3 linked regions of the Homo sapiens genome follow. The protein of the gene in region 1 interacts with the protein of each later gene in a pairwise test. Each region holds a gene or a part of one and is shown in the gene's direction. Other genes may lie near its edges. The genes, in order: CSF3R, WSB2 and WSB1.

The links.
Region 2: the proteins of CSF3R (region 1) and WSB2 interact in a protein complementation assay, tested with the Homo sapiens proteins (one study listed by BioGRID).
Region 3: the proteins of CSF3R (region 1) and WSB1 interact in a protein complementation assay, tested with the Homo sapiens proteins (one study listed by BioGRID).

Annotation. Positions count from the first base shown.
Region 1 is NC_000001.11:36,471,893-36,481,925, reverse strand, and holds part of CSF3R (granulocyte colony-stimulating factor receptor isoform a precursor), read left to right. Parts: intron 1-388; 5' UTR 389-448; intron 449-1,845; exon of another isoform or gene 1,846-1,939; intron 1,940-2,409; 5' UTR 2,410-2,429; coding exon 2,430-2,493; intron 2,494-6,252; coding exon 6,253-6,549; intron 6,550-8,038; coding exon 8,039-8,162; intron 8,163-8,303; coding exon 8,304-8,491; intron 8,492-9,239; coding exon 9,240-9,409; intron 9,410-9,534; coding exon 9,535-9,688; intron 9,689-9,786; coding exon 9,787-9,860; intron 9,861-10,033. UniProt on the Homo sapiens protein: Receptor for granulocyte colony-stimulating factor (CSF3), essential for granulocytic maturation. Plays a crucial role in the proliferation, differentiation and survival of cells along the neutrophilic lineage.
Region 2 is NC_000012.12:118,048,194-118,060,016, reverse strand, and holds part of WSB2 (WD repeat and SOCS box-containing protein 2), read left to right. Parts: intron 1-7,538; coding exon 7,539-7,707; intron 7,708-11,823. UniProt on the Homo sapiens protein: May be a substrate-recognition component of a SCF-like ECS (Elongin-Cullin-SOCS-box protein) E3 ubiquitin ligase complex which mediates the ubiquitination and subsequent proteasomal degradation of target proteins.
Region 3 is NC_000017.11:27,308,987-27,319,122, forward strand, and holds the end of WSB1 (WD repeat and SOCS box-containing protein 1), read left to right. Parts: exon of another isoform or gene 1-113; coding exon 114-286; intron 287-1,074; coding exon 1,075-1,188; intron 1,189-2,522; coding exon 2,523-2,630; intron 2,631-3,223; coding exon 3,224-3,383; 3' UTR 3,384-6,940; downstream 6,941-10,136. UniProt on the Homo sapiens protein: Probable substrate-recognition component of a SCF-like ECS (Elongin-Cullin-SOCS-box protein) E3 ubiquitin ligase complex which mediates the ubiquitination and subsequent proteasomal degradation of target proteins.

The DNA of each region.
Region 1 (10,033 bases):
AGCTGTGCTGGGCCACAGGAGTGAGCACCTGCAGAGCCCAGCAGAGATGGCCGCAGTGACAGGAGGGCCAGGGGGCCCAGGAGTTAGGAGGAGAGGATCCAGAAAGGGGGCTTTGGAACTGCGCAGTGTGGCACAGACAAAAGCAAGGTGGCAGTCCTGGGAGGTGTGACCACACAGGCTGTGAGGGAGGCAGGGGTGAGGGGAAAACTGAACTGTGCTGGATTCTGTGAGCTGCTGACCTGCTATTTATGGCTCGTGAAAATAACCTATGGTTGCTGAGTGCCAACTCCATGCAAGGCACAGGGCTAAATGCCTTTACCAAAATAATCTCATTTCATCCTCACAACAACGCTGAGGAGTGAGTGCTAATGTTATTTCTTTCCCACAGATGGGGAAACTGAGGCTCGGCTCGGAAAGGTGAAGTAACTTGTCCAAGATCACAAAGCTGGTAAGTGGCGGAGCTGGAGATCAAGTCAGGTGACCTGAATCTGAGCTGGGCTCCAAACCTCTCTGCATATCGGCCCCCCAGAGAGTGAGACCATGCTCCAACAGGTCCTAGGCCCACTTAACCAGGCTGGGGGACGTCCAGGGCTGCAGTGGAGGACCAGAGACTGAGGCCAAGCAGGCCAACACCCAGCACCCAGGGGAAGGATGCCGGGGCCTCTTGGGGTTAGGTTGTCTACTCTGGACAGGAGCCAGTGGAGGCGGATAGGGTGGTACTGCACGGGGCATAGGCTGGGCCTGAAGCTGACCCTGGCTAGGGCAACAGGGCTGGGATAGGATCAAAAGCACATGGAGATGAAAACCAGTGTCCCAAAATCTGGGCCTTGGAGGCTAAATCTTCCCCAACCAGTGTTGCGGGGGGATAATCAAACTGGTATGCTATAGTAAGAAGGTTACCAACCACCGATGGGTAGACAGATGCTCGGGATACTTGTACAGGTTTCTCACTGCACAAAACTGAGGAGTAACTGGAGCCGAAATCCAGGCTGTTCCCTAGTTGCCAGGTCCTAGTGTGGTGCTGCATCCATCCAGAGGAAGGGGTGCTTTCTTTCTGATTTGCACAAAGGAGACTTACGGGCTAGCAGTCACTGGGTATTCCGATACTGCAATATATACATGGATAGACTGGGGGTTTGGGTAAGACCCCTGTGAGCAGTAACAACCTTGGGTATCTGGGCAGTTCTTATCCACACCTCTGTCTGGGAGGAAGAGAAAAGGATTCTCCTACCTTTCTCCCTGCTGAGCACGAGGGATCTGCTGGGACACCACCTGCGTGTATGTGTCCAGATATGTACGTGCAAGCTGACCAGCGATTCCCACTGATCTGCCACCAAGAGCACCAACTCGTGCTGGAGGATCAGGTGTTGGCTCCAAGACCCCAATGGGAGCAGGGTGAAGATGAGGCTGGACACCCACCCAAGTGGTAGAAACCTCTGCATACTTCCTAAGACTGGAGCCAAGGCACCCTCCATCCAGGTGCTATGGCCGTGACCTCATGATGCCTGACCCCAGAAGGCCACCAGAGGTCTGTGCCCAAAATTGGGGGCACACTGGACCCTTCGGGTGCCCCACTTGATATTCTCTCAGCCCACATGGCTGAGGCAGCCAGCTTCCTGCAGGCATAACCTGACAGCCCCTTGCCTCAGCTGCTCCATAGAGTTCTCCCTTTCTTCCAGGGAGTGTCCCTGACAACACTGGCATGGCTTCCCCAGGAGAACCTGCCTAGTACTCATGCATGCCCAACCTGGATGTGCCAGGGAATGAACACCCCAAGAGGCATCCCTTGACCAATGGGGGGCAGGAGTCAGTGGGTAAATCTTTCCATCTTCCCTCCCATCCAAGGGATAAATTGACCCTCCAGTGGACAGCTCTGAGAAGTGTTCTACATGGCTCTTTGGAAGGTTCCAGCAGGATAGAGCCCCAGTTGTCCATAGAGGTGACCAACATGATGATGTAACTTTGTGCTGGCTTTCTCTCCTTCCCTGTTTCATTCTCCCCAGTCCCTTATCTGCTGCTAGGATCTTCTCAAAATAAACTACCAGCATGCAATTCCTCATCTCAGGTTCTGCTCTCTAGGGGTAGCCTAGCTTAGATAGCTGGGAAGGCGGAAGAATGCTCTTCCTCACTGCTCCTTTCCCTGCTCTTTCCTGGAAGGCAAGTATAATAACTGTGGCTGTCACTGTCATTTCCTATGTTCCAGGCACTGTGAAAAGCCCTTGACTTGCATCATTTTGTGTCTTCCTCTCAAAGTCCCATGCAGTATAGGCTGCTGTTACTTCCATTTTGCAAAGAAACGAAGGCTCAGAGAAGTCAAGCAACCTAGTCAAAGCTGCACAGTGACAGACAAGGATTAAGATCAGCTCTGACTCCAAAGCCCATGGTCTTAAACAACCCTTCTGCCTACAGGTGAACATCAAGTTGGTGCTATGGCAAGGCTGGGAAACTGCAGCCTGACTTGGGCTGCCCTGATCATCCTGCTGCTCCCCGGAAGTGAGTATGGCCAAGGATGAGGGTGCAGTGGGGAGGGGAAGCTACAAGGAGAGATATTGGGAATTTCCTTGCACTGCCACATGGCTCCTGGGATTCCCAGAGAATCCCACAAGATTCAAGTCTGAGCCACAGATGTGGGGTAGCTGGTCTCCCACCCACAGACTTCCACAGGCAAACCACCACCCAAGAGGAATGGTGAGACGACCCGGGCTGGTCATCCTGGAAAAGGCCAGTGAGGCGCAGATCTTGTCCGCAAATCTCTACCAAGCTGTCAGAAGCAACCCATGGGTCCTATGCAGCCTTGGTGGGCAGCAAAGGGATCAGGATGGAAGCTACAAGGGGACAGGTTTCATCCTGAAATAAAGAAGCCCAGGCAGAGCTTGGTTTCCAACCATGGAAACTCTGTCTTGAGAGGTAGAGAACTTCCCATCCCCAGGGGTATGCAAGCTAAAGCCAGGATTGATAAAGATGCTGTGCAGCAGGGGTTGGCAAACTTTTTCTGACAGTAATGTTTAGGCTTTGCAGGCCACATACTGTCTCTGTTCCTTGTTTGTTTGTTTGTTTGTTTGTTTGTTCGTTTGTGAGACAGGGTCTCCCTCTGTTGCCCAGGCTGGAGTGCAGTGGCACAATCGCAGCTCACTGCAGCCTCAACCTCCTGGGCTCAAGTGATCCTCCCGCCTCAGCCTCCAAGGTAGTGCAGGGCATGCCACCACACCCAGCTAATTTTTTTTTGTTGTTGTATTTTTTTGTAGAGATGTAGTTTTGCCATGTTGCCCAGGCTGGTCTCAAACTCCTGGGTTCCAGCAATCCACCTGCCCTGACCTCCCAAAGTATGGGGATTACAAGCATGACCCGCCACGCCCTGCCTATTGCATGTTTTTTGGTTTTTGTTTTTTTGTTTTTTGAGATGGAGTCTCACTCTCTTGCCCAGGCTGAAGTACAGTAGCGGGATCTCAGCTCACTGCAACCTCCGCCTGCCGGGTTCAAGCGATTCTCCTGCCTCAGCCTCCCGAATAGCTGGGATTACAGGCACCTGCCACCAGGCCCTGCAAATTTTTGTATTTTTACTAGAGATGGGGTTTCACCATGTTGGCCAGGCTGGTCTCAAACTCCTGACGTCAGGTGATCCACTCACCTCGGCCTCCCAAAGTGCTGGGATTACAGGCATGAACCACCGCGCCCAGCCCTGTGGCATGTTTTTATTTGGTTTTTGCTTTGCTTGTTTTTAACTCTTTTAAAATGTAAGAAACATCTTTAGTTGTTAGGCTATACAAAAATAGGCCACTCAAGCCCTGCTGTAGAGGGCAGAGCATCAGGTAGAGTTTTGAAGCAAACAACCTTGTAAAGTTTCTTCCAGCCTGAAATCCTGAGTCTGGGCCGGGCGCGGTGGCTCACGCCTGTAATCCCAGCACTTTGGGAGGCCTAGGCGGGTGGATCACAAGGTCAGGAGATCGAGACCATCCTGGTGAACACAGTGAAACCCTGTATCTACTAAAAATACAAAAAATTAGCCGGGCATGGTGCCGGGTGCCTGTAGTCCTAGCTACTCGGGAGGCTGAGGCAGGACAATGGCGTGAGCCCAGCAGGCGGCGCTTGCAGTAAGCCGAGATCACGCCACTGCACTCCAGCCTGGGCAGCAGAGTGACTCCGTCTCAAAAAAAAAAAAGAAATCCTGAGCCTGTGAAGCAGTAGAAGCCCTTTGTTGAGAATCATGAACTTGCTCTGTGACCCTGGGCAAACTGCTTCTCCTCTTAGGGCCTTCGCATCCCCATCAGTAAAACGGGCCTAAGAACACCTGAGAGAGGACAGAAAGCATTGCGGGCAAAGTGTATGTTGATTTGTTTGTTTATTTATTTATCAAAAAAAATTCATCGGCCGGGCGCAGTGGCTCATGCCTGTCATCCTAGCACTTTGGGAGGCTGAGGCGGGTGGATCACGAGGTCAGGAGATCGAGACCAGCCTGCCAGCATGGTGAAAACCCATCTCTACTAAAAATACAAAAAAAAATTAGCCGGGCATGGTGGTGCGTGCCTGTAGCCCCAGCTTTTCGGGAGGCTGAGGCAGGAGAATCGCTTGAACCTGGGAGGCGGAGGTTGCAGTGAGCCGAGATTGTGCCACAGCACTCCAGCCTGGGTGACAGAGCGAAACTCCTTCTCAAAATAATAATAATAATAAATATTCACCAAGGTCCTACTCTGTACTAGGCACTGGGAATACAGTAATAAGCAAACAGCCAAGGTCTGCTGGCCTCACAGAATTTATAGTCTAGCTGGAGTGATAGATAAGTAAATAATCATAAGACTCTATAATTATGAAGGATAATAAGAGCTTTGAGGAAGTACAGGGACCTTGGCCTCCTCCAGTTCGTTAGTGCCTGGTCTGGTTTCTTCAAGATGCCTAAGCGTTAACCAGGTGAAACAGGGGTGGGAGAGAGAAAGAAGAGTCCCTCCAAAAAGAACAGCATGCCGGGCACAGTGGTTCACATCTGTAGTCCCAGCACTTTGGGAGGCTGAAGCAGGAGGATTGCTTGAGCCCAGGAGCTCAAGATTAGCCTAGGCAACATAGTGAAACCCCATCTCTACCAAAAAAAAAAAAAATCAAAAAATTAGCAAGGTGTGCTGGCATGAACCTGTAGTCCCAGCTACTCAGGAGGCTGAGGTGGGAAGATCACTTGAGCCTAGGAGGTCAAGGGTGCACTGAGCCGTGATCGTGCCACTGCACTCCAGCCTGAGTGACAGAGCAAGAACTTGAAGAAAAAAAAGAAAAGAAAAAGAAAACCAAAACAAAACAACAACAACAAAAAAAAAAAAACAGCAGGGACAAAGATCCAGAGATTAGAAAGATTTTGGAGTTTTCAAAGAATAGCAAGAATGAGCCAGAATAGCTGGAGCTGAGAGACCGGTATAAGCTGGAACTGAGAGGGTCAGGCAGGGGCCAGGCCACAGGAGCTATTGAAGGATTTGAGTGTTTATCCTAATGATGGCAGCAAATACTCACATGCCAGACACTGCTCTAAATGCCTTCCATATGTTATCGCATGTAATCCTTCCAGCAACACTAAGGTAGGGACGATTTTTATCCCCATTTTACAGATGAGAAAACTGAGGCACAGGAAGTCTTAGAAATATACCAGGATCATGTAATTAATAAGCAATAGAACCAGAATTTAAACCTAGGCAGTCTAGTTCCAACATCCACACTCATCCATCACACCACACTGCCTTTCAGAGCAATAATGTGCCATTGAAGTGCTGCGATGGAGATGGGGTAGCAGAATCAGATTTGAATTGTGAAAAGATTGCTGTGGCTATGGGTTCTTATCACTCTAATCACTGCTTGCACCATCCTTGGGGAGGGCACTGGGGAGTTAACAGTCTCCATCTGGTGGTGTGCTGGTGCTGGCTTGCAAAAACTAATTGTGCACATCTCTTCCCAACTCCCCGATCAATGATGTCACATCAATAGGCTGAAATCAGCTACAGTGAGAGCACTTACACCGCGGAAAGGCACACACTACAAACCAGGGTCTGCTTTTCTCTGCCAAGCTGGCTGATAAACGGTTACCAGCACATCACTATCTCTGTGTCACCCCCGTAGCCTCTCGAAGTCTCCGTCCCCATCCTTCCATTTCCAGCCCCCATATCTTGAAGGGTGAGACAGGAAGGTGAGGCCTCTGAGTCTAGGAGTACAAAGGCCTAGATTATAGCCCAGCTCTGCTAGGCAGAGGCGTCGTTCCTGGCCCATTCTCTTCCACCCCAGGTCTGGAGGAGTGCGGGCACATCAGTGTCTCAGCCCCCATCGTCCACCTGGGGGATCCCATCACAGCCTCCTGCATCATCAAGCAGAACTGCAGCCATCTGGACCCGGAGCCACAGATTCTGTGGAGACTGGGAGCAGAGCTTCAGCCCGGGGGCAGGCAGCAGCGTCTGTCTGATGGGACCCAGGAATCTATCATCACCCTGCCCCACCTCAACCACACTCAGGCCTTTCTCTCCTGCTGCCTGAACTGGGGCAACAGCCTGCAGATCCTGGACCAGGTTGAGCTGCGCGCAGGCTGTAAGTCCTTCCAGCCATCCAACTACTCTGCCTCCAACACCCTCCTGCCAATACTAATAAGAATATTACCAGCCGGGCACGTTGGCTCACGCCTGTATTCCCAGCACTTTGGGAGGCCGAGGCAGGCGGATCACCTGAGGTCAGGAGTTCATGATCAGCCTGGCCAGCAAGGCGAAACCCCGCCTCTACTAAAAATACAAAAAAATTAGCCAGGCATAGTGGCGGGTGCCTGTAATCCCAGCTACTCGGGGGGCTGAGGCAGGAGAACTGCTCGAACCCAGGAAGCGGAGGTTGCAATGAGCTGAGATCACACCACTGCACTCCAGCCTGGGCAACAAAAGCGAAACTTGGTCTCAAAAAAAAGAAGAAAAAAAAAAAAGAGTACTACCTATTGAGCTCTTATCTAATAAGCACTTTATGGGCATGATATCAGGTAACAGTAGTACCAGTTGGTACTACTATGTAGCCTCACTTTGCAGATGATGAAACTGAGGTTCAGGGAGGGTAAGTGACTTGCCCTTATCACACATTAATAAGGATGGAGGCAGTGTGGCTCTAAAGCCAGTGTTGTGACCACTACTCTACATAGCCCAAGTCCTCAGCCATCTGAGGGTGTCTCCAGGGAGAACATCCTCTACCAGCTGGGCTTGTCCCCCACCCCAGTTTCAAACTTCCTTTCAAACTGAGCAGGATGGAGTTTGTGCCAAGCTGAGGCATAAGGAAAAAACAAAGACCGAGGTTCTTGTTTAAGAATCAGTAATGGGCCAGGTGCAGTGGCTCACACCTGTAATCCCAGCACTTTGGGAGCCTGAGGTAGGTGGATCATTTGAGGTCAGGAGTTTGAGAACAGCCTGGCCAACATGGGGAAACCCCGTCTCTACTAAAAATACAAAAATTAGCCGAGTGAGCCGAGATCACGCCACTGCACTCCAGCCTGGGCCACAGAGTGAGACTCTGTCTCAAAAAAAAAAAAAAAAAAAAAAAAAGCACCAGTAATGGCCACTGCTAACACTTACATAGCATTTCCTGTAAGTTAGGCACTGTTCTGAGCACTTCATGTAGAGTGAGTCATTTAGCCCTTGTGATAACGCTAGGGGGTGGGATTTTACCATTATCCCCATTTTACAGATGAGGATGCTGAGGCATGGAGCAGTTAAATAACTTCAAGATCACAGGGCTAATGAATGGCAGGACCAGGATGAAAACTCAAACACTACACTGTCACTGACAAAGGGTCTAGAGTTGGGGGCCTTGGAAGTGGGCCACCACTGGGCTGCTGGGAGTCTGTGATGCTTGCCCCGGTGCATGCCTGCAACTTAGCTTCCCCCAGGGCTGCCCTTCCAGAGCCACTCTGCCTGGAGACAGGGGGACAGACAAGGTGACAACAGAGGAACCAAGCCAGGGCAAGGCAACAGGGCCAGCTGGTCCCAGAGGAAGCTTTCTGAGTGGTCCCACCCAAAGCCCTCACACTCTTCCCACCCACATGCAGACCCTCCAGCCATACCCCACAACCTCTCCTGCCTCATGAACCTCACAACCAGCAGCCTCATCTGCCAGTGGGAGCCAGGACCTGAGACCCACCTACCCACCAGCTTCACTCTGAAGAGTTTCAAGTGAGGAGGGGCCCCCACCTTGGTCCCCTCCCTTTGGATTCTGGGGTAGGGCATGGGTAGGATGCTGGGCATGCCTCTGGGAGGGAGAAGGGAGCCTCGCTTTCTTCCTCTGCTTGGCACCCAAGCCTGGACTATTGGCAGGAGCCGGGGCAACTGTCAGACCCAAGGGGACTCCATCCTGGACTGCGTGCCCAAGGACGGGCAGAGCCACTGCTGCATCCCACGCAAACACCTGCTGTTGTACCAGAATATGGGCATCTGGGTGCAGGCAGAGAATGCGCTGGGGACCAGCATGTCCCCACAACTGTGTCTTGATCCCATGGATGTTGGTGGGTGATGCAGGGGAGGGAGGGGATCCCCAAAATGGGCAGACACTGAGAGGAATGGAGAGGGAAACACAGAACTAGCGACAGACAAGAAGACACTGGAAGACCTAGAGACAGAGGCACAGAAGAGGGACAGAGACAAAGAAAGGTGCAGCTGGAGACAGAGAAATGGGGACACAGACCCAGAGACAGGAAGAGACACAGAGGCAAAGAGACACATTCAGTCATGCTTTCAGCGTGTTTCCTAAAGCACCCACTACATGTTAGGCACTGCTCTAGGTACTGGGGATACAAAGCATCAAAAATGCCCTCAGAATGTTAGATTCAAGTGGGGGGGAAAATAAGATAGAATTTCAGATAGCAATAAGCAGAAAGGAGAAATTAAAGGAGGAGAAGGGCATAGAGAGAGAGGGGGGAAGGGGAGCACTGGCTATTTTAATATGCTGGTCAAGAAAGGCCTCACTAAGAGGGTGACAATTGAGCAGATCCTTGAAGGAAATGAGGGAGCAAGCCGCTGGATATCTGGAGGGAAAACATTTCAAGCAGAAGTAACAACCAGTGCAAAGGCCCTGGGGCAAGAGCGGAAACAGAGACCTAGAGAGAAACAAAGACACATAGAGATCGAACCACAGAAACGTGTCATTGGCAACGTGGACAGATGGTGAACCACAGACAGGGAGACAAGAGGGAGCTAAGGCAGAGCCCTCTAGGGTGGGATAGGGAGACCTTCTGACAGCCCCACTCCTTGCAGTGAAACTGGAGCCCCCCATGCTGCGGACCATGGACCCCAGCCCTGAAGCGGCCCCTCCCCAGGCAGGCTGCCTACAGCTGTGCTGGGAGCCATGGCAGCCAGGCCTGCACATAAATCAGAAGTGTGAGCTGCGCCACAAGCCGCAGCGTGGAGAAGCCAGCTGGGCACTGGTGAGGCAGAGGGCAACCTGGAGAGCCTGAGGTGGTGGGGGCAGGGGGCAGGGTAAGTCGGGCTCGAGCTGGCCCTAGAATGGCCCAGCGATCCAAGGCTCAGAGTCCTGTCCACCCCTCACCAGGTGGGCCCCCTCCCCTTGGAGGCCCTTCAGTATGAGCTCTGCGGGCTCCTCCCAGCCACGGCCTACACCCTGCAGATACGCTGCATCCGCTGGCCCCTGCCTGGCCACTGGAGCGACTGGAGCCCCAGCCTGGAGCTGAGAACTACCGAACGGGGTAAGGAGGTGATGAGAGGCTGGGAGCAGCCAACAGTATCCAGTCCAGGCCCCAGGCCCCTCCCCAACTGGCACCCCCTCTTCTTGTTCCATCCACAGCCCCCACTGTCAGACTGGACACATGGTGGCGGCAGAGGCAGCTGGACCCCAGGACAGTGCAGCTGTTCTGGAAGGTGACTCCCTCTGAAGGCCATCCCTCCACCTCGACACCTCCCGCAGTCCAAACAGATCCCTACAAACCGGGGCTTAGGACTCCAACAGGTCTGGGAGGCGTGGACGCATTTATATGTGATTTGCATGCACTTTGCATGTGCCTAGGGAGCTGAGTTAGCTTTTGGACAGACTG
Region 2 (11,823 bases), on another chromosome or scaffold:
AACTTCATGGTAATCTTGCAGCCAAGTTCAAGCTTCATCCTGGTCTGGAGGGTTCTGATTGCTGATGGCTTGTTACTGTGGGTGGGAAGGTTGAAATCTGGGTATTCCCTGGGGTGGTGTTACTTTTTAATTTAGGAAATGACATTTCTTTGTTTGCTGAAGTCAGGCATTGAGTTAAAGGCAGCTCTCTCTCCTTCCCATCTAGATAAGGGCTTTCTTTTCAGTGAGTGTTACCCGTAGAATTCTTTTTAAAAGGGCCCCTACTGTTTGTGTAGATCCTATGTGAATCTTTTTATAGCTTCCGTTTGATTTCCATTGCCTCCTTACAGTTCAATCTGAAAGCAATCTGTAGCTAGCCTGCCTTTTTAACAGAAATCTGTTTCCAGTTCTGGGGTTTTCCTAAAGATTGACAACTTCGTTTTGAGGGTGTGGGCAGGGTTGTTGAGAGCTGCCAAGTTACTGTACAAAAAAGGCCAGAGTTTTAACTTATTTTCAAATGGAATAAAGCCCATTGTAAAGGAAATACAATGGGCAACAGTTGAAATCTTCAGAGCAATGGTTAGACTTCACTTATTCATTCAGCAAATATTTGTTGAACGTCTACTATGTGCCAGGCACCCTCTAGGCCAGCCCCGACCAACAGAAGTCTAATGTGAGCCACGTATGTAATTTAAAATGTTCAAGTAGCCACATTAAAAAAAAGAAAAAAGAACTAGGTGACAATTTAAAAACTCTTTCAATACAACATGTCTAAAATATTCCTGCTACATGTAATCAAATAAATTGTAATGTAATGTTTTAGATTTTTTTTTGTGCTAAGTGTTCAAAACGTGTTGTGTATTTTTTACTTACAGCCCATCTGAATTCTGACTTGCCACATTTCAAGTGGTTGGTAACCACATGTGATTTCCCTATTAGACAGTGTAGCCCAATAGCAGTGAACTGGCAAGTTTGGGTGGGTTCAGAAAGAGACAGACAATAAATACGTAAAAATGACAGGCAATCAAGAAAATATCAACCAAATGCGCCGGGGTGGCTCACGTCTGTAATCTCAGCACTTTGGGAGGCTGAGGCGGGCAGATCACTTGAGGCCAGGAGTTCGAGACCAGCCTCACCAACATAATGAAACTCCGTCTCTACTAAAAATACAAAATTAACCAGGCGTGGTGGTGCATACCTGTAATCCCAGCTACTCAGGAGGCTGAGGCAGGAGAACCGCTTGAACTGGAGAGGTGGAGGTTGCAGTGAACCAAGATCTCGCCATTGCACTCCAGCCTGGGCAACAAGAGTGAAACTCCATCTCAAAAAAAAAAAAAGAAGAAGAAAATATCTAAGTGATGGTTATAAAGAAAATCAAATGGTTAAAGGAAAGTGAATGGTGCCAGGCGCAGTGGCCCAGCAGTTTGGGAGGCCAACTTGGGTAGATCACTTGAGCTCAGGAGTTTGAGACCAGTCTAGGCAGCATGGCAAAACCCCATCTCTGCAAAAAATACCGAACTATAGGCGCGTGCATGGTAGAATGTGCCTGTAGTCCCAGCTACTGGGGAGGCTGAGATGGGAGGATCATCTGAGCCTGGGGAGGTCGAGGTTGCAGTGAGCCGTGATGGTGCTACTGCATTCCAGCCTGGGCAACAGAGCAAGACCCTGTCTCAAAAAAAATAAAAAATAAAAAAGGAAAGTGTATGGTCGCTTTAGATAGTGAGGCCAGGATGGTCTCTGAGAAGGTGACATGAGGACCAATCCCTGAATGATAAGATGGAGCAACTGAGGAAAGCTTTTGAGGCCGGTGGAATATCTAATGTACATGTCCTGATACAGGAAAAATCACCTAGCTTCCTGCTGGCTGGGGTCATAGCTTTCATCTCTGTGTTAAGGCTAACTGCTTTGCCTAGAAGAGGCTTATAATATATACCTTTCCATTCAGCCTGATTGTCCAAACACATCCCATTGTTTAATTAGAACACCCTGATCCAGGGCCAGGTGCAATGGCTCATGCCTGCAGGAGAATCGCTTGAGCTCAGGAGATCAAAACCAGCTTGGTCAACATAGCCAGACCCCCATCTCTACTAAAAATTTAATTTAAAAAAAAAAAAAATGCTGAGTGTGGTGGTACGCCCCCGTAGCCCGATACACAGGAGGCTGAGGCGGGAGGATCACTTGAATCTGGGTGGGAGATTGAGGCTGCAGTGAGCTGTGATTCAGCCACTGCACCCCAGCCTGGGTCTCAAAAAAAAAAAAAACCCAAATATATATATGAATATGATATACTTGAAATTTGCTAAGAGTAGATTTTAAGTGTTCTCACCACACAAAAATAAGTATGTGAGGTAATGCATATATGGTAATGAGCTTGACTGAGCCATTCCACAATGTATACATATATCAAAACATGTTATATTCCATAATATATACAATTTTTATTTATCAGTTTAAAAAAGAAGAGGCTGGACGCGGTGACTCACGCCTGCAATCCCAGCACTTTGGGAGGCCGAGGTGGGCAGATCACCTGAGGTCAGGAGTTCGAGACCAGCCTGGCCAAAATGGTGAAACCCCATCTCTACTAAAAATACAAAAATTAGCCAGGTGTGGTGGCGCATGCCTGTAATTCTAGCTACTCGGGAGGCTGAGGCAGGAGAATCACTTGAACCCAGGGGGCGGAGGTTGCAATGAGCCGAGATGGCGCCACTGCACTCCAGCCTGGGCAGCAGAGTGAGACTCTGTCTCAAAAAAAAAAGGAGAAAACAAAGAAACCCTGATTCATAGGCCTTTTCACCAAGAAGGATCTACAAGTACCATACCAGTTGAAGCTAGATACCCCACCCCCAGCTCTGTTTTTGTTTGTTTGTTTTGTTTTTAAGTTCTGCACTAATTAGGGCTTTCTCTCCGTGTAGCCAAGTTTAGTTTGGGCCCAGACTCCAAGAGACAGGAGTCACTGGGTTTGTTCTTCTTTTAGCTCCTGGATTCCTGAACCTGAAATAGCAAGAGATTAAATCCCTAAATCACAGAAATAGAGTGTGAATTCTGAGTAGGGCTTGTGTTTAAGAAGCATTTCATGTGAAATGTTTGGCATAAGCATCATCAGAGTTTAAGGGGCTTTATTTATTTTTTATTTTTTGGGGACAGAGTCTTGCTCTGTCACCCAGGCTGGAGTACAGTGGTGCAATCTTGGCTCACTGCAACCTGCACCTCCCGGGTTCAAGTGATTCTCCTGCCTCAGCCTCCCGAGTAGCTGCGACTACAGGCGCCCGCCACTATGCCCGGCTAATTTTTGTATTTTAAGTAGAGACGGGGTTTCACCACGTTGGCCAGGCTGGTCTTGAACTCCTGGCCCCAAGTGACCTGCCTGCCTCGGCCTCCCAAAGTGTTGGGATTACAAGCATGAGCTACCATGCCTGGCCAGCTTTATGTTACTTTTTTGTTTAAAGAGTTATACCATATGTATTTATTAGACAAATATTTACTCACTGCCTGCCCTCCACCAGGAACTCTGCCAGCTCTGGGGATAAATATACAAAGTTCTTGCTCCCTGGAGTTGATATCCTAGTGGAGGGGAGACAGATGGCGATCAAATGGTGATAGAGCTGTAAAGAAAATAAAGTGAGGGGTTGTGAAGGAGATTGACTAGGGGTCAGAAGAGTTCTCTAAGCAGTTGTCATTTGAGCCAGACCTGAATAAGAGTAGATGCCAGCCGAGGAGAGGCATTCCAGGTGAAGGGCATGGTTGGTGCAAAGGCCTAGGGTCAGAACTAATTGAGCATTGGCAGAGGGTAGAGAGAAGGGCAATGTGTTGGAGCCAGGGGCAGGGAGAGAAGTACAAGCCCAGGGAAGTTCAGATTATGCTGGATTTTGAGGGCAGGGTGAGGAGCTAGAGTTTTATTCTAACAGTGTTTGAAACTGACCACTCTGGAGGCAAGGAGAACCGATGGTGCGGGGCTAGAGGGGAAGCCGGGAGAGCAGCTGGAAGGTTGCCTACTGGGCCAGGCGGGAGATGATGCTGCATAGATGAGAGTAGAGATGGAGAGGGGTTAGATTTGGCAAGTCTTTTGTAAACAGACTTGATAGAACTTGCTAATGGATTTGGTTTGGGAGATTTAAAAAAAAAAAAACAGACGTGGTGGTTTACACCTGTAATCCCAGCACTTTGGGAGTCCGAGGTGGGCGGATTGCTTCAGTCTAGGAGTTTGAGACCAGCCTGGCCAAGATAGCAAAAACCTGTCTCTACTAAAAATACAAAAATTAGCTGGGTGTGGTGGTGCACGCCTGTAATCCCAGCTTCTTGGAAGGCTGAGGCATAAGAATTTCTTGAACCCAGGAGGCCGAGGTTGCAGTGAGCCGAGATTGTGCCATTGCAGTCCAGCCTGGGTGACAGAGTGAGACTCCATCTCAAAAAAAAAAAAAAAAAAAAAAAAAGGATAATGTAGAGGAAGTGAACCAATTGTGAATGTTATCAGGATGGAAAAAAAAAAGACATTTTCATCCTGGTCATTTGATCCGGAATTCCTGGTCTCAAGCAATTCTTCCACCTCTGCCTCCCAGAGCACTGGGATTACAGGCATGAGCCACTACCCCAGGCCATCCAGGTCATTTGAAAATGTTTCTCTAGATCAGTCAATGTCATTTAATACTTGACTGCATCTGGGTTTCTCAGCCTTGGCATTGTTGACATTTTGGGCCAGATGATTCTTTGCTGGGGGCTGTCCTGTGCGCTGTAGAGTGTTGAGCAGCATCCCTGGCCTCCACCCACTAGATGGCAGTAGTAGCAACTCCAGTTGTGACAACCAAAAATGTTACTGCCAAATGTCCTTAAGGGGCAAACTAGCCCCCAGTTGAGAACCCTGGGTCTATAGAAATAGCTATACACATGTGATTGTATAAATGAAACTGTCACACATACAAACATACAGATTTCTAGGAGGATTTACCTGGGTCTATACAAATAGCTATTTACTCAGACCATATATATAAAAATATATTTCTTTCTTTTTTCTTTTTTTTTTTTTTTAAAGAGATGGAGTCTTACCATGTTGACCAGGCTGGTCTTGAACTCCTGGCCTCAAGCTATCATCCCATCTCGGCCTACCAAAGTGCTAGGATTATAGGCGTGAGCCACCGTGCCTGGCCTAGACCTAATACATTAAACCCAAATTTACACATAGAACCTCTGAGAATGAATAGTCTCTTTACAAAGGCTTGATATGATTTATTAACATTCTATTTAAAGACAGAAACTTCAGGAACACACACCTATTTTATATAACAAGATATACCTATGTTATTATTTTCCTATAAATGCATATACTAGAATTATTATTATTATTATTATTATTATTATTATTTTTTGAGACAGAGTTTCACTCTTGTTGCCCAGGCTGGAGTGCAATGACACCATCTCAGCTCACCGCAACCTCTGCCTTCCGCCTCCCGGGTTCAAGCGATTCTCCTGCCTCAGCCCTCTGAGTAGCTGGGATTACAGGCATGCGCCACCAAGCCCGGCTTATTTTGTATTTTTAGTAGAGATGGGGTTTCTCCATGTTGGTCAGGCTGGTCTCGAACTCCCGACCTCAGGTGATCTGCCCGCCTTGGCCTCACAAAGTGCTGGGATTACAGGCATGAGCCAATTTTTTTTTGAGACAGAGTCTCGCTCTGTCACCCAGGCTGGAGTGCAGTGGCACGATCTCGGCTCACTGTAACCTCCGCCTCCTGGGTTCAAGTGCTTCTCCTGCTTCAGCTTCCCGAGTAGCTGGGACTGCAGGTGCCCGCCACCATGTCTGGCTAATTTTTTTTTTTTTTTTTTTTTTTTGGATTTTTAGTAGAGACATGGTTTCACCATGTTTGCCAGGCTGGTCTTAAACTCCTGTCCTCAAGTGATCTGCCTGCCTTGGCCTCCCAAAGTGCTGGGATTACAGATGTGAGCCACTGCACCTGGCAAAAATATTTTATAAATATACACATATGCATCTCTACCATCTGTTTTATTGAATCCAAGATACCATGGATTGTATTATCATCATGTATAACTGAGAAAAAAATACTACCTATTTAACTATGAAAAGTCATTGATTATAAGATACATCCTGATTTCAGCGAGGTCAAAATGTAAGATATATAAAGATGTGTCTTAAAATATATGAAATACGGGTTTTAAAAATGAATATCTATCTGGTAACAGCCAGGGTCAAAGTCTTCCACATTCCACATTCCTTGTGTGGAATGGACACATCAGGAAGTGACCTTATTCAGGATGGAAGCCAGTTTTTATATTAGTAAGTATCACAGTCATAATGGTCAAAAAATTCATTCTGAAGGCCTTTAACTTATAAGCTTCATCAGCCATGAGAATCTTCCATCAGAGTAGAGAACTGAACTAGGAACTGTGGGTCAGTCAATGAAGAAGCTCCAATCTGGTGCCTACTCTTTCACAAGATGGTGTGCTAGGTCCTGGGAGAAACAAAGACAAAATGATCTGGGTGTTGGAACAAGGTGCTTAGACACTGATGACGAGGGCGGGGGGCAGAGAGAAATTGGTTACATAAGAGAGAATGAAATAAACAAGGTGCGACTTATTTCCGTTTTGATAGTGTGAGATCAGGGTACGCTTCTTAGTTGTGAATCTAGGTGGGATTATTACTTTTTTCTTTCTTTCTTGTTACTTTGAGAAGCTAGGGATTCTCATAAGCAAAAGTGGGTCCAGGTGTGAACGTAAATAAGCCCCTTGCATGTCAAGGAGATTTTGTGGCCAGAGTGTGGCCTGCAGGGAGGGGACAAGGGAAGGAGGTTGGACCGATGGGCTGGGGCAGATGGCATGTGGTGAAAGTCCTGGTCTCAGTTGCCTTTATGATGTAGGCAGGCGGGAGCTTTCTAATGTATTTGAAAGAAATGATGTGATGTGTGGGTATTTCAGCTTTAGCAGCATCTCTAGGGGTAGGAAGACTGATCAGGAGACTGTAGCAAAAGATCTGGGTGAGATGAGATGAAGGTTTAACCCCAGACAGAGGACGTGGAAGCGGGAGAGATGGGGAGATGGAATCCATACTTCTGAGTGTGAGGAAGCAGGGCAAGGGCTGAACGTTTTTAGCCTTGATGATGGGGAGGATGCAGGCGAGTGAGAGGGAGCCTTTGAGTTTCACATATTCCTTCTTTGACAGCAGCAGGTTCTTCTGAAGAAACCTGAAATGCATTGGAAGGCCTTGCTATTTTGGCCCCATAATCAGCACCGTCTAGCATATTCCTGGTCTGGCTGTCTCTCCACTTTCCTCCCCTTCAAGTATTCATAGGAAAATGAGGCCTCCATTCACTGGGTTCATGGGCACAAAGGTTACTGTGAGTCATGGTTAACCAGCAGTGAGGAGTGCCAGGATTGAGTAACCGTGGTGGAATGTGGCCTGTGGCTGCTGTTATTGCCCTGGGTCATTTAAGTGACAACTCCCTCTGGGAATGGATAGTGTGGCTCTTTGCCACAGGGAGACAGTGGCTTTCCTGTGTCTGGGTGGTCAGGGAGCAAGGGGGTGTGTGTTTGAAGCATGTTGTCTCCTGCCCCAGAGGAACCGCTGCTGCTGGCCGAACTCAAGCCCGGGCGCCCCCACCAGTTTGATTGGAAGTCCAGCTGTGAAACCTGGAGCGTCGCCTTCTCCCCAGATGGCTCCTGGTTTGCTTGGTCTCAAGGACACTGCATCGTCAAACTGATCCCCTGGCCGTTGGAGGAGCAGTTGTAAGTATTCTCGTACTGGGGCCCCATCCGGCGCATTTCCAAACACTCCTTGTTCTTTTGCCATCTCTGTGCCCAAGAACCAGAGAGAGGGAAGGTGGCTCATGGTTCAGGAATTGATCATGGGGGTTTCCAGAGCCCCAAGTTCTGTATATGTGAAAGTCAATTCTGTCAAGATTATGTTAGCCCCAAGTTGGCTTTTTTTCCCATAGCTTTATTGAGATGTAATTTATATACCACACAGTTTGTCCATTTAAGTATACAATACAGTGGCTTTTAGTCTATCCACAGAGTTGTGCATCCATCACCATCATCAGTCTTACTTTATTTATTTATTTTTTGAGACAGTCTCCCTCTGTCTCCTAGGCTGGAGTGCAATGGCGCAATCTTGGCTCACTACAACCTCTGCCTCCTGGGTTCAAGCGATTCTCCTGCCTCAGCCTCCTGAGTAGCTGGGATTACAGGCACACACCACCACGCCTGGCTAAGTTTTGTATTATTAGTAGAGACGAGGTTTCGCCATGTTGGCCAGGCTGGTCTCAAACTCCTGACCTCAAGTGATTCACCCACCTCGGCCTCCCGAAGTGCTGGGATTACACATTTCTCCCATGAGCCACTGTGCCTGGCACATAATCAATTTTAGAATATCTTTATTTCCTCAGAAAGAAACCCTGTACCCCTTAATTTAGATCCCCCAACCCCCCTGCACTCTCCAGGCAACCACTAATCTACTTTGTCTCTCTAGATTGGCCTATTCTAGACATTTCCTATTAATGGAGTCATACAACACGTAGCCTTTTTTGACTAGCTCCTTTCATTTTACATAATGTTTTCACAGTTCATCCGTATTCTAGCATATACTAGTATTTCATTTCCTTTTATTGCATCATATGGAGATGCCAAATTTTGTTCGTACATTTATCAGTTGATGGACATTGGGTTGTTTTCATGTTTTGGTTATTACAAATAGTGCTGCTATGAACATTTATAGAAAACCTGTGTTTTCTATGTTTAACTATTTGAGGAGGTGTCAGACTGTTTTCCAGAGTGGCTGCACCATTTTACTTTCCCACCAGCAGTGGATTCAGGTTCCAGATTCTCTACATCCAGCCGTTGTTATTGTCTGTCTTTTTTTATTATCCTAGCAGGCAGCCATCCTAGTGGTATGAAGTGGCATTTCATAGTGGTTTCGATTTGCATTTCCTTGATGGCTATGGATGTCAAGCGTCTTTTCTTTCTTTCTTTTTTTTTTTCTTTTTTTGAGACAGAGTCTCACTCTGTTGTTCAGGCTGGAGTACAGTGGCATGATCTCAGCTTATTGCAACCTCCACCTCCTGGGTTCAAGCAATTCTCCTGCCTCAGCCTCCCAAGTAGCTGGGACTACAGGCACATACCACCACGCCTAGATAATTTTTGTATTTTTAGTAGAGACGAGATTTCACTATGTTGGCCAGGCTGGTCTCAAACTCCTGACCTCAGGTGATCCACCTGCCTTGGCCTCCCAAAGTGTTGGGATTACAGGTGTGAGCCACCACACCTGGCCGAGCATCTTTTCAGGTGCTTACTGGTCCTTTGTATACGTTCTTTGGATAAATGTCTACTCAGAGCCTTTGCTCGTTTTTGTCTTTTTATTATCAACCAAGTTTATTTTATTCATTTATTTTTTTTGAGAGAGAGAGAGGGTCTTGCTCTGTTGTCCAGGCTTGAGTGCAGTAGCTCAGTCACGGCTCACTGCAGCCTCAACCTGCTGGTCTCAAGCTATCCTCCTGCCCTAGCCTCCCAAGTACCTGATACTACAGGCGCGCCACCATGCCCAGCCAACTTTTAAATTTTTTGTAGAGACAGGGTCTTGCCTAGGCTGGTCTTGAACTCCTGGCCTCAAGAAATCCTCCCGCCTCAGCCTCCCAAGTAGCTGGGATTACAGGTGTGAGCCATGGCGCTTGGCCAAGTTTAGTTTCTAATACCAGTTTTTCTTTCTTTGGGATGGACAAGCCCCAGTGTCAGAATGCCGTGAGCTCCCATTCAGATGGCCCAGCATCTGTATGTTTTCATTTGTCCCAGGGCAACTCTATGTCTGTATTTATTCATTCAGCCAGCCTTGGTTGCGTAGTTTCTTTTTTTTTCTTTTGAGATGGAGTCTCGCTCTGTCGCCCGGGCTGGAGTGCGATGGTGCGATCTCGGCTCACTGCAACCTCCACTTCCCTCCTGCCTCAGCCTCCTGAGTAGCTGGGATTACAGGCATGCGCCACCACCCCTAGCTAATTTTTTTGTATTTTTAGTAGAGATGGGGTTTTACTATGTTGGCCAGCCTTGGTTACATAGTTTCTTTGCGTAACACTGAGTTAGGGACTGAGAGTCGTTAGATAAATCAGACATGGCCCTTGCCCTTGAGGCTTTCATTTATTTTTCTTTAAGCATTTTTTATAAATAACATTAGATTTAAGGTTTTTATAAGTTGGATATGAAACTTGCCTTGATAAGAGGGAATGTTGACAGGAGTTTGTTGAGATGGGTACTCTGCATGCTGCTAGAGTTGAGGGGGATAAATTTGTGCAGTTTTTGGAAGGAAGCCTGGCAAAATGCATCAAGGACCTGAAAAATGTTCTTCTGGGCTGGGCGCGGTACCTGATGCCTGTAATCCCAGCACTTTGGGAGGCCGAGGCAGGCAGATCACTTGAGGTCAGGAGTTTGAGACTAGTCTGGCCAACATGGTGAAACCCTGTCTCTATTAAAAATACAAAAAGTTAGCCAGGTGTGGTGGTGTGCACCTGTAATCCCAGCTACTCAGGAGGCTGAGGTAGGAGAATCGCGTGAACCTGGGAGGCGGAGGTTGCAGTGAGCTGAGATCGCGCCACTGCACTCCAGCCTGGGTAACAGAGCGAGATTCCATCTCAAAAAAAAAAAAATCTCAGAAATGGTGTCATCTATTTATATACACTGATCTTCATCATGAAATTAGTTGCATGTTAAGAAAATTGGAAACAGTTTGAAATCCAGGGATGAGAGGATGGTTACGAAAATTTTACCATTTCCATATGATATTTTTGCAGCCATCAAATTTTGTTATGTGTTTTTAATCAGAGTTTTCAGTTTCTTCTGTGGTCAGTTTAATGATAATGCCAAGGTCATACATTGTTTACTAATTCCCTACCTGAAATACAAGGGATGCACCTTCATTTCTAGACTTGACATGTAAGTAAATTTACTATATGAATTATAAATTCTATAGTCTGCTCTTTTTAAAAAGCACAACATGGAAGATCTGTCAGTTTCCTGAAAATCACTCTTGTTTTCAAATTTGTATAGATAAATATGTCTTTTTTCTGTCACATGACCTAGAGCTGCTCCCGGGTAGAAGGAAGGGCCTGGGCTTGCATCTCCCTAAGGGCACTGTGGGTGGCTCAGGGTCTAGTGTGGAGCATGTGTCGGTTGGGGAAAGCTCCTTTACTTTAATTACTGGTATCAGTAAATGAAAACAATAACAATTTTTTTTTCTGAATCCTATTTCTGAACAAACCATAAATTTAAATCCTATTTCTGAACAAAACATAAATTTGTATAGATGAATATATCTTTTCACTATTAGCTAAGGAAAATGAAAAAAGGTATTTGAGTATTAACCATTTTTTTTCATATTTATTATTTAACATAATGAGCAAAGTGTTATTGTTTCATATGTTAAGTGAGAAGTTACTGGTTTTGGAGAAAAATCACATTTTTTTTTTTTTTTGAGAGAGTCTTGCTCTGTCATCCAGGCCAGAGTGTAGTGGCGCATCTCGGCTCACTTTAACCTCTGCCTCCTGGATTCAAGTGGTCCTCCTGCTTCAGCCTCCTAACTGGGATTACAGGCGTGTGCCACCACACTCAGCTAATTTTTTTGTATTTTTAGAAGAGACAAGTTTTCACCATGTTGCCCAGGCCAGTCTTTGACTCCTGGCCTCAAGGGATCTACCTGCCTTGGCCTCCCAAAGTGCTGGGATTACAGGCGTGAGCCATTGCACCTGGCAAAATCACATATTTTGAAGAACAGTATTCTGAGGAAATGTTTGCAGTATGAGGCTTATTGAAAAAAAACAGGCTATATGGCCGGGTGCGGTGGCTCACGCCTGTAATCCCAGC
Region 3 (10,136 bases), on another chromosome or scaffold:
AATTTATAATGCTTAATATAATCTTAATTAAATTTAGCAGTTTTAGTATAAGATGTGCCATTTTGTCCTCTGTATGTCTGAATGAAGCTATAACATTTGCCTTTTTATTGCAGGTTTTCCTTTGGAATATGGATAAATACACCATGATACGGAAACTAGAAGGACATCACCATGATGTGGTAGCTTGTGACTTTTCTCCTGATGGAGCATTACTGGCTACTGCATCTTATGATACTCGAGTATATATCTGGGATCCACATAATGGAGACATTCTGATGGAATTTGGGTGGGTACAGCATGAATTATTTTAGTCTATAATTCATCTCCACCTATCAAGTTATGTGAATAATTACAATCACCAATATATGCAACCTAAAATTACAGTCTATTCTAATTTAAAATGTTGGTATTATTTAAGCCCTTGACTAATGGAAAGCCTTCGATATAAATTCTAAAAGTAAATTTGGCTCTCTTGATACAAGTCTTGCTACTTAACAGTACCCAGCTCTCTATAGAAGTACTAATTATGTTTAGAGTTTTTGTTGGAGAAAAACAGTTAAAACCAAAGTTGGACTTAATCTTACTGTCTTAAATCATAAAAGATTTTTTTTTTTTTTGACAGAGTCTTGCTCTGTCGCCAGGCTGGAGTGCAGTGGCGCAATCTCAGCTCACTGCAACCTCCACCTCCTGGGTTCAAGCAGTTCTCCTGCCTCAGCCTCCTGAGTAGCTGGGCTTACAGGCACCTGCAACCACCCCTGGCTAATTTTTGTATTTTTAGTAGAGATGGGGTTTCACCATGTTGGTCAGGCTGGTCTCAATCTCTTGATCTCGTGATCCACCTGCCTTAACCTCCCAAAGTGCTGGGATTACAGGCATGAGCCACTGCGCCCGACCATAAAAGATTAGTTCTTTTCAGGTGACTTTAATTTGGATGTATCATCTCTACTGAGTCTTCTCAGTTATATTAATTAAGGCTACTTTAAACACTATTCAAAGACAGATGTACTTTGTACCTGGGTAATTTTGTTTTCTTGAAGTGACTGATATCCACTGAAAACATATATTTGACCTCAGGCACCTGTTTCCCCCACCTACTCCAATATTTGCTGGAGGAGCAAATGACCGGTGGGTACGATCTGTATCTTTTAGCCATGATGGACTGCATGTTGCAAGCCTTGCTGATGATAAGTAAGTATGTGCATTATAGCTTGACTGACTTACTATTACCTTTTACATTCTTAAGCCTTAAAGCCTTTCTGCAGTTAAGAGTTTTAATGTCTCTTCCTCAACACAAGCCCCTGGGAGATTTTGTTGTGTCTTAAAGAATATCGGCCTGAACAATTATCTGTGTAAACTAAAGATAATGCATGCCTCTCCCTGTGTTCCTTGTTTAACTTGTTTAGGCATAGTGGGTTGATTTTTAGTCAGCTTTTAGCCCAGCTTACAGAGATTTTTTAAAGTAATGTCTTAACAAAGGTTGAAGCAGAAGGAAATTTCTAAAGTGAAACAAATAGTAAAACCAAAAGAATTACAAATAAATAGTAATTTGTATCCACCATGATTGAGATTAGAATATGAAATGTCACATGAATGATATGTGCTGCTTGTTGGTAAGAAGCAGAAACTAGTTGCAACCATCTGTGTTCATGCATATAGCATTGAGTAGTTCGGTGACGTCAATTCATAAGGCAGCTCTTCTCTTCCCAGAATGTTAGCAAACATATGGAGAGAGGTTTTTTTTGTTTGTTTGTCTGCAACCATTGTTTCCTGTTTGCTCAGATAGATTCTGCATGTTAGTTCTCTGCTGTATTTGTAGACACACTCAGCCTGGGTGAAAAGCTTTTTTTCCTTTCCTGGTTTTTTTTGTTTGTTTATTGGAGACAGGGTCTTGCTTTGTTGCCCAGGCTATAGTGCAGTGGTGCAATCACATCTCACCACAGCCTTGATTTTCTGGGCTCAGGTGATCCTCCCACCTCAGCCTTCCGAGTATCTCACACCACAGGGGTATACCACCACACCTGGCTAGTTTTTTTAAAAAATTTTTTGTAGAGACAGGGTCTCCCTATGTTGCCCAGGCTGGTCTTAAAAGTCCTGGGCTCAAGCAGTCCACCCACCTCGGCCTCCCAAAGTGGTGGGATTATGGTTGTGAGCTACCAGGCCCACCTAGCTTTTAAAAATGTCTTGGGAAAAGGGTGAAACAGACTAGAAGTTGATTGTATTGTAAGTGTAGGAAAGTAAGGAGAAAGTTTCCGGGTGTGAACATTCTAGGTTTGAACACTGGGAAGGAGGGAAGGCAGCCATGCATTGTAGTCTCTTAAGTGAAAGTTTATCCAATTTACCAACTGATATTATAGACCTTAAAATATTTTGTAATTGTATAAAGCAAGTTATTATAATTGCCTGTTGGTGTGATGTGTGTATTTTGTGACTCATAACTCAATGGCATTTCTTTCTAAATTTTAAAAAAGTTGCTTTTACCTTACATTTTCTACAAGATACTAAATAATTTATTTCATTTTCAGAATGGTGAGGTTCTGGAGAATTGATGAGGATTATCCAGTGCAAGTTGCACCTTTGAGCAATGGTCTTTGCTGTGCCTTCTCTACTGATGGCAGTGTTTTAGCTGCTGGGTAAATATATTTTTCTCTTTTTTTTTTTTTTTTTTTTTTTTTTGAGATGTAGTCTCCCAGGCTGGAGTACAGTGGTGCAATCTCTGCTCACTGTAGCCTCCGTCTTCCAGTTCAAGGAGATTCTCCTGCCTCAGCCTCCCGAGTAGCTGGGACTACAGGTGCACACCACCAGTCCTGGCTAATTTATTTGTTTGTTCGTTTTTCCAGTAGGGTCGGGATTTCACCATGTTCGCCTGGCTGGTCTCAAACTCCTGACCCTGACCTCAAGTGATCTTCCCGCCTCAACTTCCCAAAGTGCTGGGATTACAGGCGTGAGCCACCACACCTGGCCCATTTTTCTCTTTTCTTTAAGGGCCAATTTAAGGGGGCTTTTAGCAGCTAGTAATTTATTGTCAGTAAAACTCTAATAAGTGTTCTTCATAGTAGTGTTACCTTGTCATGGAATACATCATTGGTTAGTTCTTCCTGGTTGGGTTTTAATGTGAAGTTTGTGACTCCACTACTCACATGTATTGGGTGATAGTTGTTTGAGCTGTAGCAACACTGAAATACATATACTTGGGTGACTAAGCATGTGCTTTGTTTCTGTTTAGGACACATGACGGAAGTGTGTATTTTTGGGCCACTCCACGGCAGGTCCCTAGCCTGCAACATTTATGTCGCATGTCAATCCGAAGAGTGATGCCCACCCAAGAAGTTCAGGAGCTGCCGATTCCTTCCAAGCTTTTGGAGTTTCTCTCGTATCGTATTTAGAAGATTCTGCCTTCCCTAGTAGTAGGGACTGACAGAATACACTTAACACAAACCTCAAGCTTTACTGACTTCAATTATCTGTTTTTAAAGACGTAGAAGATTTATTTAATTTGATATGTTCTTGTACTGCATTTTGATCAGTTGAGCTTTTAAAATATTATTTATAGACAATAGAAGTATTTCTGAACATATCAAATATAAATTTTTTTAAAGATCTAACTGTGAAAACATACATACCTGTACATATTTAGATATAAGCTGCTATATGTTGAATGGACCCTTTTGCTTTTCTGATTTTTAGTTCTGACATGTATATATTGCTTCAGTAGAGCCACAATATGTATCTTTGCTGTAAAGTGCAAGGAAATTTTAAATTCTGGGACACTGAGTTAGATGGTAAATACTGACTTACGAAAGTTGAATTGGGTGAGGCGGGCAAATCACCTGAGGTCAGCAGTTTGAGACTAGCCTGGCAAACATGATGAAACCCTGTCTCTACTAAAAATACAAAAAAAAAAAAAATTAGCCAGGCGTGGTGGTGCACACCTGTAGTCCTAGCTACTTGGGAGGCTGAGGCAGGAGAATTGCTTGAACCCAGGAGGTGGAGGTTGCAGTAAGCCAAGATCACACCACTGCACTCCAACCTGGACAACAGAGCGAGACTCCATCTCAAAAAAAAAAAAAAATTGTGTTGCCTCATACGAAATGTATTTGGTTTTGTTGGAGAGTGTCAGACTGATCTGGAAGTGAAACACAGTTTATGTACAGGGAAAAGGATTTTATTATCCTTAGGAATGTCATCCAAGACGTAGAGCTTGAATGTGACGTTATTTAAAAACAACAACAAAGAAGGCAGAGCCAGGATATAACTAGAAAAAGGATGTCTTTTTTTTTTTTTTTACTCCCCCTCTAAACACTGCTGCTGCCTTAATTTTAGAAAGCAGCTTACTAGTTTACCCTTGTGGTATAAAGTATTATAAATTGTTGTGAATTTGAAGAATCCGTCTACTGTATTATTGCTAAATATTTTGTTTATACTAAGGGACAATTATTTTAAGACCATGGATTTAAAAAAAAAAAAAAAAACTCTGTTTCTGCAGGGGATGATATTGGTGAGTTGCCAAAGAAGCAATACAGCATATCTGCTTTTGCCTTCTGTTGTTTATCTTACCTGCAGATATTAAGAATGTATGCATTATGTAAAATGCTCAATTATATATTTTTGTTGAGTTTTTTAATTAAAGACTTGTAAAAAAAAAAAACAGTATATTGCAAATGTTTCTTAAATAGGTTAGGTGGAGTACTTTCTCTCTGTCTCCATTGTAAGGTTGATGGTACACCACAGGCAAATTAAGCAAAAAGGACAATGAAGAAAGAATGCAGGACTCAGGCGCTGCTCTAGAATTCATTCAGGGCTCCCCGAGTGCAGCAGCTCTTATGGTGGTTTTGTTTTTAGGAGAACTGTTGTAATAATGCATATTTTAAAAGCATAGGGAAGCTCTAGAACACAGGAAGGTGACTACTAAGCAAGAGAAAAGTATCTTTTAGTGGGGAACTACCAGCCTATAGTAAGTCTATCTGGTTAAAGTAGTTATTATGAAAATCTAGCAGTCTGGGTCCTTTGAGAAGGCATTAAAAAAGCAAAACTCTTATGAGCCATGTGTGATTTTGAAGACTCATTTCCACTGAGAAATTATTTGGAAGTTCCTATGGTTAGCTCTGTTAAGGAATGTAAAAATTTATAGGGGGTGTAGGGTTATCAATTTGAAAGCCAGTAGAAAATCTGCTCAAGTTACTTCTTGAGGATCATCTGTATTTTACAAAAAGAAGCACAAGAAGCATCTAATCTTTATACTTCTTGTGACTTTTTTTCCCCTGCATTTTACTTTGTAATATATCGGCTTTATAATTTTAAAATACACTGGCCGGGCGCAGTGGCCCACACCTATAATCCCAGCACTTTGGGAGGCCAAGGCAGGTGGGTCACTTAAGGCCGGGAGTTCATGACAAGCCTGACCAACATAGTGAAACCCCTGTCTCTACTAAAATTACAAAAATTAGCTGGGCATGGTGGTGGGTTCCTGTACTCCTAGCTACTTAGGAGGCTGAGGCAAGAGAATTGCTTGAACTGGAGAAATGGAGGTTGCAGTGAGCTGAGATCACGCAACTGCACTCCAGCCTGGGTGACAGAGTAAGACTCTAAATAAATAAGATACCATTACTTTTCATATCATTGCATTATTTTTGCTTTCCACACCAACATATCCAGTCAAGTAAAAACAGCTTTTTTTATTTTTTATTTTTTATTTTTTTTGAGACGGAGTCTCACACTGTCACCTGGGCTGGAGTGCAGTGGTGCGATCTTGGCTCACTGCAGCCTCCACCTCCTGGGTTCAAGCAATTCTCCTGCCTCAGCCTCCCAAGCAGCTGGGATTACAGGCGCTCCCCCACCACGCCCAGCTAATTTTTGTTGTATTTTTAGGACAGACGGCGTTTCACTGTTGGCCAGACTGGTCTCAAACTCCTGACCTCGTGATCCGCCCGCCTCGGCCTCCCAGAGTGCTGGGATTATAGGTGTGAGCCACCGAACCTGGCCCAAAACAGCATTTTTGGAAGCTACATTCTGTGAGATGTTCACCTGTTTGCCACCTCTTCTCGTGAAAACCATAGTGAGTGCCAGTGTGAAAGGAAGATTGCAGCGTATATGTCAAGTAGAAACATGTTTGAATTTTCCATTTGTCTGTGGGGAAGAAGGTAATAACAGTAATAACAGACTGAAGGACCAAAGGAAAATAGGGAAGACGTTGATTATGGACTTGGATCAGATTCTAGCTACATGATTTGAAAATGACACTGCCTCTCCTATTTTGCCACAAGCCTGTCATTTGGAGAACTGGCAGATCATTTATGTTCAGATTTAATTTTCTGTTTTAGAATCCCATGGAGTACATGTGAACATAGGAAAATCACACTCAGCAGCCAAGCTATCCTTTTGCGATAATGAAATCACTTTAAAACCTATAACTTGATCTTAGGTTGGCAAATCTTAAACTTAACGATCCTTGAAATTTCCTGCCTGCTGTGACTGTGATGCAGTTGGATTCAACTGGTTTACACTGCTCTTGGGTCGGCAAGACCAAAAAAGGTTGGACTGCACTGTAGCATGCTTATGGGTTGAGGCAGTGGCAGAGGCAGAGGACTTGGCCGTCAGCCAGCCAGCACAGGCGTAAGAAAATAGCATGAGAAGTTTCACGAGCCTGAAACCATTGAGACAGTGATTACAACCTCCATATTAATCAGATGAGGGTTTGTAGGTGACATAGCATTTTACCCAAGTAATTCTGAACAGACTGTGGCTTATGATAATACATTTTAACTAGCAAGTGTGTGGACTATAAAACAAATATCTAGAGTTATATATGGATGTACTATCATTTGGTGATAAAAGCATAGAAAAAGCATAAGTTGGAGTATACTGGGTTTTTTTGTTGTTGTTAAATTCTTTTCCATCAGAAGTAAGAGCTGTTGGCAGCAACTAATAAAATGCAACCTAGTGACATGCTCGTCATAACCTTGGCAGATGTTTATGGTAAGATGCTTGGAAGGAATGAACGTAAGTAGGCAATCTCAACCTGCCCTTTGATCCATAAAGCATTCTTTAGCCACCAGCAAAAATCTGGTCTGAGCCAGGTATAAAGTGACCTGTTTTATTACAGGTGGGTGGGGTAGCTTTGTGTGGTTGTTTTTTGACATTATGTATGCTTTTATTTTTTACTTTGAGGTAGGATCTCGCTCTGTCACCCAAGCTGGAGTGCAGTGGTGCAATCTCAGCTCACTGCATACTCTGCCTCCCCTGGTTCAAGTGGTTCTCGTGCATAAGCCACCTGAGTAGCTGGGATTACAGGCGTGAGCTGGGCCAATTTTTGTATTTTTAGTAGAGATAGGGTTTCATCATGTTGGCCAGGCTCGTCTTGAACTCCTGGCCTCAAGTGATCTGCCCATCTTGGCCTCCCAAAGTGCTGGGATTACGGGCATGAGCCACAGTGCCTGACCAGTCTAGGCTTATCTTAACAGTTGAGGAATCAGAAAATGATTGAATAGGGCTGGAATTGGAGAAGGAAAAAATGATTTAATTCAATTTTTATCAACTCCAGCACTATTTTCTCTATTAGAGACTACTGTCATTATCCTTCTGGTTTCTGTTTTAAAGATACTGATTAAGGAATTTTCTTTATAGTTCCACATAACAGTTGGTCTTCTGGTCTGAAAGTAGTATTACAGGTTTTGTTAGGAAAACCTATAATACAGTGTTGCCTGTCACCGTCATTATAGTGAGTTTGTGTTTGTTTGGTTTTAAATAAGGCTGAAGCATCAATGGCTCTTTCTGAAAAAATTGTTCTCCAAAAGTAAAGTGTGAGCTATAGAAATCATCTAGAACAGGGGTGTCCAATCTTTTGGCTTCCTTGGGCTACATTGGAAGAATTGTCTTGGGCCACACATAAAATACACTAACTGATGAGCTTAAAAAAGAATTACAAAAACAATCTCATAATGTTATTAAGAAGGTTTACGAATTTGTGTTGGGCCACGTTCAAAGCCATCCTGGGCCACATGTGGCCCGTGGGCTACACGTTGGACAAACTTGCTCGAGTATAGATCAGTAAGTAAGAGAAATGAAATGGCTACTCCACTGGGTCGTTTTATGCTTCCGAATTGTTGAATAATAATGAAATGTTCTTATAAAAAATAGATTAAGGATGATGGGCATTAGAGAGATACCTGAGAAAGATAATGATTAAAATAGATCCAAGAGGCCAGGTGCAGTGGCCCTCGCCTGTAATCCCAGCACTTTGGGAGGCCAAGGCAGGCAGATCACCTGAGGTCAGGAGTTCGAGACCAGCCGGCTAACATGGTGAAACCCCGTTTCTACTAAAAATACAAAAAATTAACCCAGCATGGTGGCATGCGTCTGTAATCCCAGCTACTCAGGAGGCTGAGGCAGGACAATCGCCTGAACCCGGGAGGCGGAGGTTGCGGTGAGCCAAGATTGCACCATTGTACTCCAGCCTGGGCAACAAGAGTGAAACTCCATCTCAAAAAAAAAAAGCCAAGAATGAGGCTGATATTAAACAGAAATATATATATATATGTATATATATATATTTTTTGACACGGAGACTCGCTCTGTTGCCCAGACTGGAATGCAGTGGTGCAGGCTCAGCGCACCACAACCTCCGCCTCCCGGGTTCAAGAGATTCTCCTGTCTCAGCCTCCTGAGTAGCAGGGATTACAGGCCGTGCCACCACACCTGGGTTATTTATTTATTTATTTTGAGACGGAGTCTCTCCCTGTCACCAGGCTGGAGTGCAGTGGCACATTCTCGGCTCACTGCAACCTCTGCCTCCTGGGTTCAAGCGATTCTCCTGCCTCAGCCTCCCAAGTAGCTGGGACTACAGGTGCCTGCCACCATGCCCAGCTAATTTTTGTATTTTTAGCAGAGGTGGGGTTTCACCATGGTGGCCAGGATGGTCTCGATCTCTTGACCTCGTGATCTGCCTGCGTCGGCCTCCCAAAGTGCTGGGATTACAGGCGTGAGCCACCACGCCCGGCTGTATTTTTTTTTTTTTTAGTAGAGACAGGGTTCTGCCATGTTGGCCAGGCTGGTCTGGAATTCCTGACCTCAGGTGATCCACCCACCTCAGCCTCCCAAAGTGCTGGGATTACAGGCATGAGCCATCACGCCCTGCCTTAAATGGAAATCTTAAAAGACATACATTTGCACCAAGTGAGCTAAATATTTTGGCACCAAACTCACACAAAATGGCCGGGCACAGGGGCTCACACCTGTAATCCCAGCACTTTGGGAGACTCTGGTGGGCAGATCACTTGAGGTCAGGAGCTGGAGACCAGCCTGGCCAACATGGTGAAACCCCATCTCTACTAAAAATACTCCCCAAAAATTACCTGGGCGTGGTGGCTCATGCCTGTAAGTCCCAGCTACTCAGGAGGCTGAGGCAGGAGAATAGCTTGAACCTGGGAGGCAAAGTTGGCATTGATCCAAGATGGCGCCACTGCACTCCAGCCTGCATGACAGAACCAGACTCTGTGTCAAAAACAAACTCACACAAAATGGGAAACCCAGTAAGTTGTATGATTCACAATATTAATCTCACAGTAATGGCTGAGGAAAAGCACAGTTAATATTATGGACCGAATGTTGTATGCACACCCCACGACCACCACCACCACCACCAGTAATACGTTGAAATCCTAATCCTCAATGTAATGATATTAGGGAGTGGGGCCTTTGGGAGGTGATTAGGTCATGAGGGCGGAGTCCTCATAATGGGATTCGTGCCCGTGTGAAAGGAACCCTAGAAAGCTCTCATTCCCTCTCCACCATGTGAAGATACAATGAGAAGACAACAGTCTAACCGAGAAGAGGACCTGCACCCTGATCTCAAACTTCCAACATCCAGAACTGTGAGAAGTTAACTTCTGTTGTTTATAACCCATCTAGTCTATGGTACTTTCTTCTAGCAGCCCAAATGGACTAAGGCATAGGAACAGCAGGAATGCCTCCTTGAAACTTCTTTATTTTTTCAAGATGGTCTCGCCCTGTGACCCAGGTTGGGGTGCAGTGGCATGATCACGGCTCACTGCAGCCTCCATCTCCTGAGCTCAATCGATTCTCCTGTCTCAGCCTCCTGAGTAGCTGGGACTATAGTTATGCACCATCACACCCAGCTAATT